Linked DNA regions of Homo sapiens. The protein of the gene in region 1 interacts with the protein of each later gene in a pairwise test. Each region holds a gene or a part of one and is shown in the gene's direction. Other genes may lie near its edges. The genes, in order: TMEM41A and FXYD6-FXYD2.

Region 1 (3,790 bases):
GCAAGATTCTGGAGACCAGGCTTCCTGTCCTCTGTCTCACAAGCTGTGTGACCCTGAGGGGTCTGGGATCTTCATCTCCTGTATACTTCCTCTCCTATAGAAGAGAAATGGACTATCAGAGTGTTCCAAACCAATCGGAATCTCAGGGTGGGAGTGGAGAAGGGGCTTTTAAAATACAGGTTCCTGGGCACTACCCCAGAACCAAGTACCCAGAATTTCTGGGGTGGAGCCCAAGGATGTGGTTTTTTAACAATGTCACCAGCTGATTGTTCTGCAGCCAGCCTGTTCAGCCAGCCAGACTTTTGGAATCCAGTGGATTTGATGACATCTTTGAGACAGTACAGAATGTGAATAGTACTTCTTTTAAAAAACTGTTTGTCAACAATGGCACTTCTCTCTTTACTTTGGCTGTTGGGTACTCAGAACCAAATTTGGGGCCCACTTTTGGCAAACAGGTGAACCTTATGCATTTTTTTACTAACTGTACTCCCTGATGTCTTGTATTCTTCTGCACGCATTTTGCTTTTCCTATTTAAAATTTTATTTATTTATTTATTTATTTTTGAGACAGAGTCTAGCTCTATCGCCTGGGCTGAAGTGCAGTGGTAAGATCTTGGCTCACTGCCACCTCTGCCTCCCAGGTTCCAGTGATTCTCCTGCCTCAGCCTCCTGAGTAGCTAGGATTACAGGCACATGCCACCACACCCGGCTAATTTTTGTGTTTTTAGTAGAGACGGGGTTTCACCATGTTGGCCAGGCTGATCTCGAACTCCTGACCTCAGGTGATCCACCTCGGCCTCCCAAAGTGCTGGGATTACAAGCATAAGCCACCATTCCTGGCCCTATTTTAAAATTGTCTTATAGTAGCATGTATTATTTGTGTAAATATCTCAAGTTCTTTTGTTGAACAAGACAGGCATATATGGGAAGTGAGGAAAGGAGGGAAAATAATAGAAAAGAAGGAAAGAAGGGAAAGAGTTAATATGTATAAGGGTCAAGAGTCAAGCAAAAAAAAACCGTAGTCACTGTTCCTGGTGACATTCTGAATTATTATTTTCTTAATTTTGCTGCTGCTTGTAACAGGTGCTTTGTCCTTTTCTTCTTCCAGGTTTGATCCCATATAATTTCATCTGTGTGCAGACAGGGTCCATCCTGTCAACCCTAACCTCTCTGGATGCTCTTTTCTCCTGGGACACTGTCTTTAAGCTGTTGGCCATTGCCATGGTGGCATTAATTCCTGGAACCCTCATTAAAAAATTTAGTCAGAAACATCTGCAATTGAATGAAACAAGTACTGCTAATCATATACACAGTAGAAAAGACACATGATCTGGATTTTCTGTTTGCCACATCCCTGGACTCAGTTGCTTATTTGTGTAATGGATGTGGTCCTCTAAAGCCCCTCATTGTTTTTGATTGCCTTCTATAGGTGATGTGGACACTGTGCATCAATGTGCAGTGTCTTTTCAGAAAGGACACTCTGCTCTTGAAGGTGTATTACATCAGGTTTTCAAACCAGCCCTGGTGTAGCAGACACTGCAACAGATGCCTCCTAGAAAATGCTGTTTGTGGCCGGGCGCGGTGGCTCACGCCTGTAATCCCAGCACTTTGGGAGGCCGAGGCCGGTGATTCACAAGGTCAGGAGTTCAAGACCAGCCTGGCCAAGATGGTGAAATCCTGTCTCTAATAAAAATACAAAAATTAGCCAGGCGTGGTGGCAGGCACCTGTAATCCCAGCTACTCGGGAGGCTGAGGCAGGAGAATTGCTTGAACCAAGGTGGCAGAGGTTGCAGTAAGCCAAGATCACACCACTGCACTCCAGCCTGGGTGATAGAGTGAGACACTGTCTTGACAAAAAAAAAAAAAAAAAGAGAAAAAAAGAAAATGCTGTTTGTATTTTGTGGTCTAATAAGGAGTTCGGGATAGCCTGTTGTATTTGCCTCATGCCAGCCCCTGAGCTGCCTTGGGAGAAGATGCTGATTGTCCTTGTCCAGAGTACTGCTTTTGCAGAGTGACAGGCTGCTGGGACAGATGTCCTCCTGTTGCATCTTTGTGGATGTTTAGTACCAATGATGACACGGGAACTCACATCACTGACACCGCTCTTCATCTTCTGTTAGTCTCTTGAAGAGCATTTTTTTGTACTTCTTTGCTGATGACCTACCTCTTCATAAGCCAAGTGAAACAAGTTGACGAACTGCCTAGGACTTCCACGTGTTGCTCACATACATGATGATTTCTGTCACGCTCTTGTGTTCAGACACACTGACATTACCATGTATGTCAGACCTCCTTATGATCGCATGTCCTGACAGTTAAGCTGATTGCAAACAGACTATTAAATATGAATGGAGCAAACGCTGTATGTCATGGATATGTTCTGGAGAAATTCTTACCCATCTGGATGGGGCAGGGCCCTTGACTCACCTGAATCATGACCAGGCAAACATTTTATCTGTCCTTTCTGCAGGAATCCGTTCTGTGTCATGCTAGGAGAATGGGTTCAGTATATGGGGCCATCAGGCAGTATACCCTCTGAATGTTTTTCATTGTTGTATTTGCTTAGAGTAACTAAACAATTGTATCTTTTAATTTATCTTTTAATTCAAAGAGGAAACCTTGGCTTCTGATAACTTTGTTGTGTTGTATCTTAATGGCCTATAGCTGTCATTACTTCCTGTAGCTGCAGTACAGAATTGTTACAGACCTGGATTAATGCTTCCAAAGACAGAAGGACCTTGGCACCTAAACTGACCAGCCCTGTGATCCTGCACCCCACAGGAGTAACTCATCAGGACTTACCAGACTGCTGCTTTTGGGCATCATCTGCTGGGTTGATGATTTGGTTTGGCCAAGAGTCTTGCCAAGACTTTAATCTATGCCTCTTGTTCTACATGAATTCTTGGGAATTACTCACGTTCCATAGGAAGAGTGCATCCCCAGGTGATGGTTTTTGGTTATGGTATGATCCTTTCACACCGAGGATTTCATTGTTTAAAACGTGTTTCTTTAAAAGAAGCCTTGATAACGAGAGTGGGGGAAGGAGGCAGCAGACTTTGAAGACTGTGGCCTTTGGTGTTCTGGAGTAGGGGGAGGGAAGGAGAAACATGTTTTCCACATCATCGCAAGTGTGTGCCCTTTGCCCCTTTTCAGGATCCTTAGAGTTGCCTCCCTCCCTCCACCCCGACAGTTTTGCAATAATGTGCCTTATCAGTTGTGAGTTTACAGGTGAAGCAATTTCCCAAATAAATGGATGTAAGTGTTCTGTGTGGTGCTTGTTTGAACATGTTGCTAACTTTCAACTACCTTTGCCAGTGGGAATTAGGATTGGCTGAAAATTGGACAGTCCAAAATGGTGTTTTAAGCTTTCCACTCTCAATGCTTCTTACCAAAATAATTTCTCAGAAGCCAGATTTTCATCTTCATTTTCTCTCTCTGCTCCCTGTATAGTGGGGTCAGTAGTAACAGGAGTAGCTACCGGATGGGCAGCAGGAAAGCATAGGGAAGAAGCAGAGTGCCAGTCTAGCTTTTACAGAATACTCAAGAAGAGGCTGTCACCAAATAAAATGATGATTGCCCCTTCCTTTCGTGGCTGTGTCAAATACAAGAATCGCAGAAACTAGCTTTCTCCATTACCTGCTTTTTGTGGCTGCAGGAAACCCAGTCATGGAAAGTCTTCCTTTCCCTCAAGTTCTGACAAATGCTGAGATTATTAAGGCAGCTCTCAGGGCACAAACAGTACATTTAGAAAAAGACAGGACTAGAAAACAGTGAAGTACACTTTTTGTTT
Region 2 (2,873 bases), on another chromosome or scaffold:
CTCAAGTGCACCCTCCAGTGGGCCCGGGAGGAGCCGCAGAAGTGAGAGCAAACCCACGGGGTAACTGGGTAACCGGAGGGCCAGACAGGGGGACTAGGCCCCCCGCTGCTAACCATGGTCCCAAACTCATTTGTTAAATAGGGATGATCCCACCTGCCTCACAAGATTAGGGCTAGCATCCAAAGACATGGCAGTCAGGACAGCGCTCTGAGAACGGTCCAGTGCAGACTCGGAGTGTTCTGGGGGAGACAAAGAGAGTTATGTATCCTCAAGCCCCGAGGGGCACACAGCAGGAGCTTAATAACTGCACATTGACTTGTTTTGGTCCAACCCAAAGAAAAATACACAGAAAACACAACCCATGGAAAGAAGATACAGCAAGCACACCTGTGGGCTCTGGACTTCTAATGCACGTGTGCCACTGCCACCCCACCCCAAGGCTCGGGCCACAGTCCTGCGGGTCTCCCCATTTTCCCGTGTTGCCCATGGCAGCTCTCTCTACGTGTGCCACTGCCAGCCCACCCCAAGGCTCGGGCCACAGTCCTGCAGGTCTCCCCATTTTCACATGTTGCCCGTGGCAGCTCCCGGAGGGCAGTGCCGGGTGGCAGCTGATCACATAGGCACAGGAGGCAGGTGGCCTAAGCAAGGGGCTCCACTTTGGAGTTGCTGCCATCCTTCTCCAGGTGTTCATCGGGCAGCTGTGCTGGGGGCACCATGATGGCCCAGTCTCTGCTGCTACTCTCGATATGCCAACAGACCACCGTGGATCTGCTCCAGTAAATATTTGCTGACTGACTGACTGACTTAGGTTCTTAAATGCCTATGGTCCAGCCTTATATAAAGAGAGAGAAGGCTGGGCGTGGTGGCTCATGCCTGTAATGCCGGCATATTAGGAGGCCAAGGCAGGAGGATCTCTTGAGACCAGGAGTTTAAGACCAGCCTGGTCAATACAGTGAGACCCGATCTATACAAAAAAAAATTTTTTTAATTAGCTGGGCATGGTGACATGTACCTATAGTCCCAGCTACTTGGGAGGCTGAGGCAGGAGGATTACTTGAGCCCAGGAGTTTGAGGCTGCAGTGAGCTACGATCCCACCACTGCACTCCAGCCTGGGTGACAGAGTAAGACCCCGTCTCAAAAAATAAAATAAAATAAAATATAAAATAAAATAGAGACAGTCAAACGTGGCCTCCAAGCCTGACCCTGCGATGATACTGGCAGGAGGGAGGTAGGAGAGACTGGAAGAATTTTGAGTCTTCCAGGGTCTCCTTGGAAAATTAGTCCATGGAAACAAATCTCCTTTTCTCTTTTCAAGGCAGAAGATTCCGCTGTGGGGGCAATAAGAAGCGCAGGTGAGCGCTGCCTGGGGTGACCGATGAGGGGGTTGGGGCTGGAGAAGGAGGGGCGGGCTGAGGATTTTGTCTCTGACACAGTGGAGGATCCCCAGCCTCAGAGATCCCTAGACCCACCCCTCCCCCTGCCCTCTCACCTGTTGCTTTTCCTTCCCCCACCAGGCAAATCAATGAAGATGAGCCGTAACAGCAGGTATGCTAGGAGGGCCTGGGGAAGGTGCGGGGAGGGCAGGGCAGGCTTGGGAGCAACAGGGAAGAATTCTGGCTCCTGGACTCGGTAAATAAGAATTTTAGGGTCGTCCACACATCAGCCAGGTGGTCTGTCACCCATCGTGTGTTTAAAATGATGGCCAAGGGCCTGGCGTGGAGTGTGTGCCGCAGGAGATCACAGAGGAGCCCTGGAGAAAAGTGAGATGGACAAGGGGGAAGTAAAACCCCAACCTCTGCTGCCTCCCACCCAACCCCATCCTGCCTTTGTCTTCTCAGCCTCGGCGGTGCCACCCACTGCACTGGGGCCAGCTGGGAAGCCAAGCATGGCCCTGCCTCTGGCGCCTCCCCTTCTTCCCTGGGCTTTAGACCTTTGTCCCCGTCACTGCCAGCGCTTGGGCTGAAGGAAGCTCCAGACTCAATGTGACCCCCAGGTGGCATCGCCAACTCCTGCCTCGTGCCACCTCATGCTTATAATAAAGCCGGCGTCAGAGACCGCTGCTTCCCTCACCTGCCTGCCTGTCTCCCTCCTCTGTCACCACCAGCCTCTCCAAGCTCAAGTACAAATACAGCCGGGTCTCATTTGTTTTTTCAATTAATTGCTCAGGCACCTGTCTGCCTGTAAAAGCAAGAAGTTCAGTGTTGTCATCTGTAGGCCACTCCTCACACCCCTTGAACTGGCAGAAGCCCTGGGGACAGAGGCCTCAGCCTGGCTTTTATACACCTGGGAAGTCTGAAAGGCCCAGAGGTCAAAACCACAGCCCATTGGATACCCATGAGGCCTCTGCCCCAGGCACCACTGTTGGGTTCCTGGAAGCGACCCTGCTTAGCAGTTGCTGTGGAGAGGCCCCAGGCTACCAAGATGGGCCTCTGTGTGGTCACATTCCTGTGCTCTGCCGTTTTCCATATGTACCCCCCTGGGCCAAGGTGGGTGGGTCCGGGGAGCCTGGTGCTGGGCCTCTGCACATGTCCTGAAGGAGCCAGCCCTCTTCCCAGCCCCCTCCTGGTACTAAGCTCGGGCCACCTCTTTCCACTCTTGGGGCCACCTATTTGGAGGGTTGGTTAATTCCAGGGCCTGGGGCCAGGGAACAGATGGTGAGAGTGAGACCACTGTCACACTTGCTCCAGCCCCCGTCCATGCAGGCAGGGACCCACCCAGGGCAGCCTCAGCCTGAGATGCTTCCAGGTCGCTCCACCTAGTGCGGACTCCTAATGTGCCCGACTCCTAATGCCCATGCCCCCTTTGCTGTGAGTCCAAGGCCATGGCCATGCAGGGAGGCCTCTGGGACCTTCTGCACTCAGGAAGGAGCCCA

What was found.
Region 2: the proteins of TMEM41A (region 1) and FXYD6-FXYD2 interact in a two-hybrid assay, tested with the Homo sapiens proteins (one large-scale study listed by BioGRID).

Annotation. Positions count from the first base shown.
Region 1 is NC_000003.12:185,489,076-185,492,865, reverse strand, and holds the end of TMEM41A (transmembrane protein 41A precursor), read left to right. Parts: intron 1-1,108; coding exon 1,109-1,329; 3' UTR 1,330-3,265; downstream 3,266-3,790.
Region 2 is NC_000011.10:117,819,339-117,822,211, reverse strand, and holds the end of FXYD6-FXYD2 (FXYD6-FXYD2 read-through protein isoform 1 precursor), read left to right. Parts: intron 1-1,316; coding exon 1,317-1,353; intron 1,354-1,515; coding exon 1,516-1,540; 3' UTR 1,541-1,546; intron 1,547-1,839; 3' UTR 1,840-2,155; downstream 2,156-2,873. Other genes in the region: FXYD2 (sodium/potassium-transporting ATPase subunit gamma), read left to right, coding at 1,317-1,353, 1,516-1,540.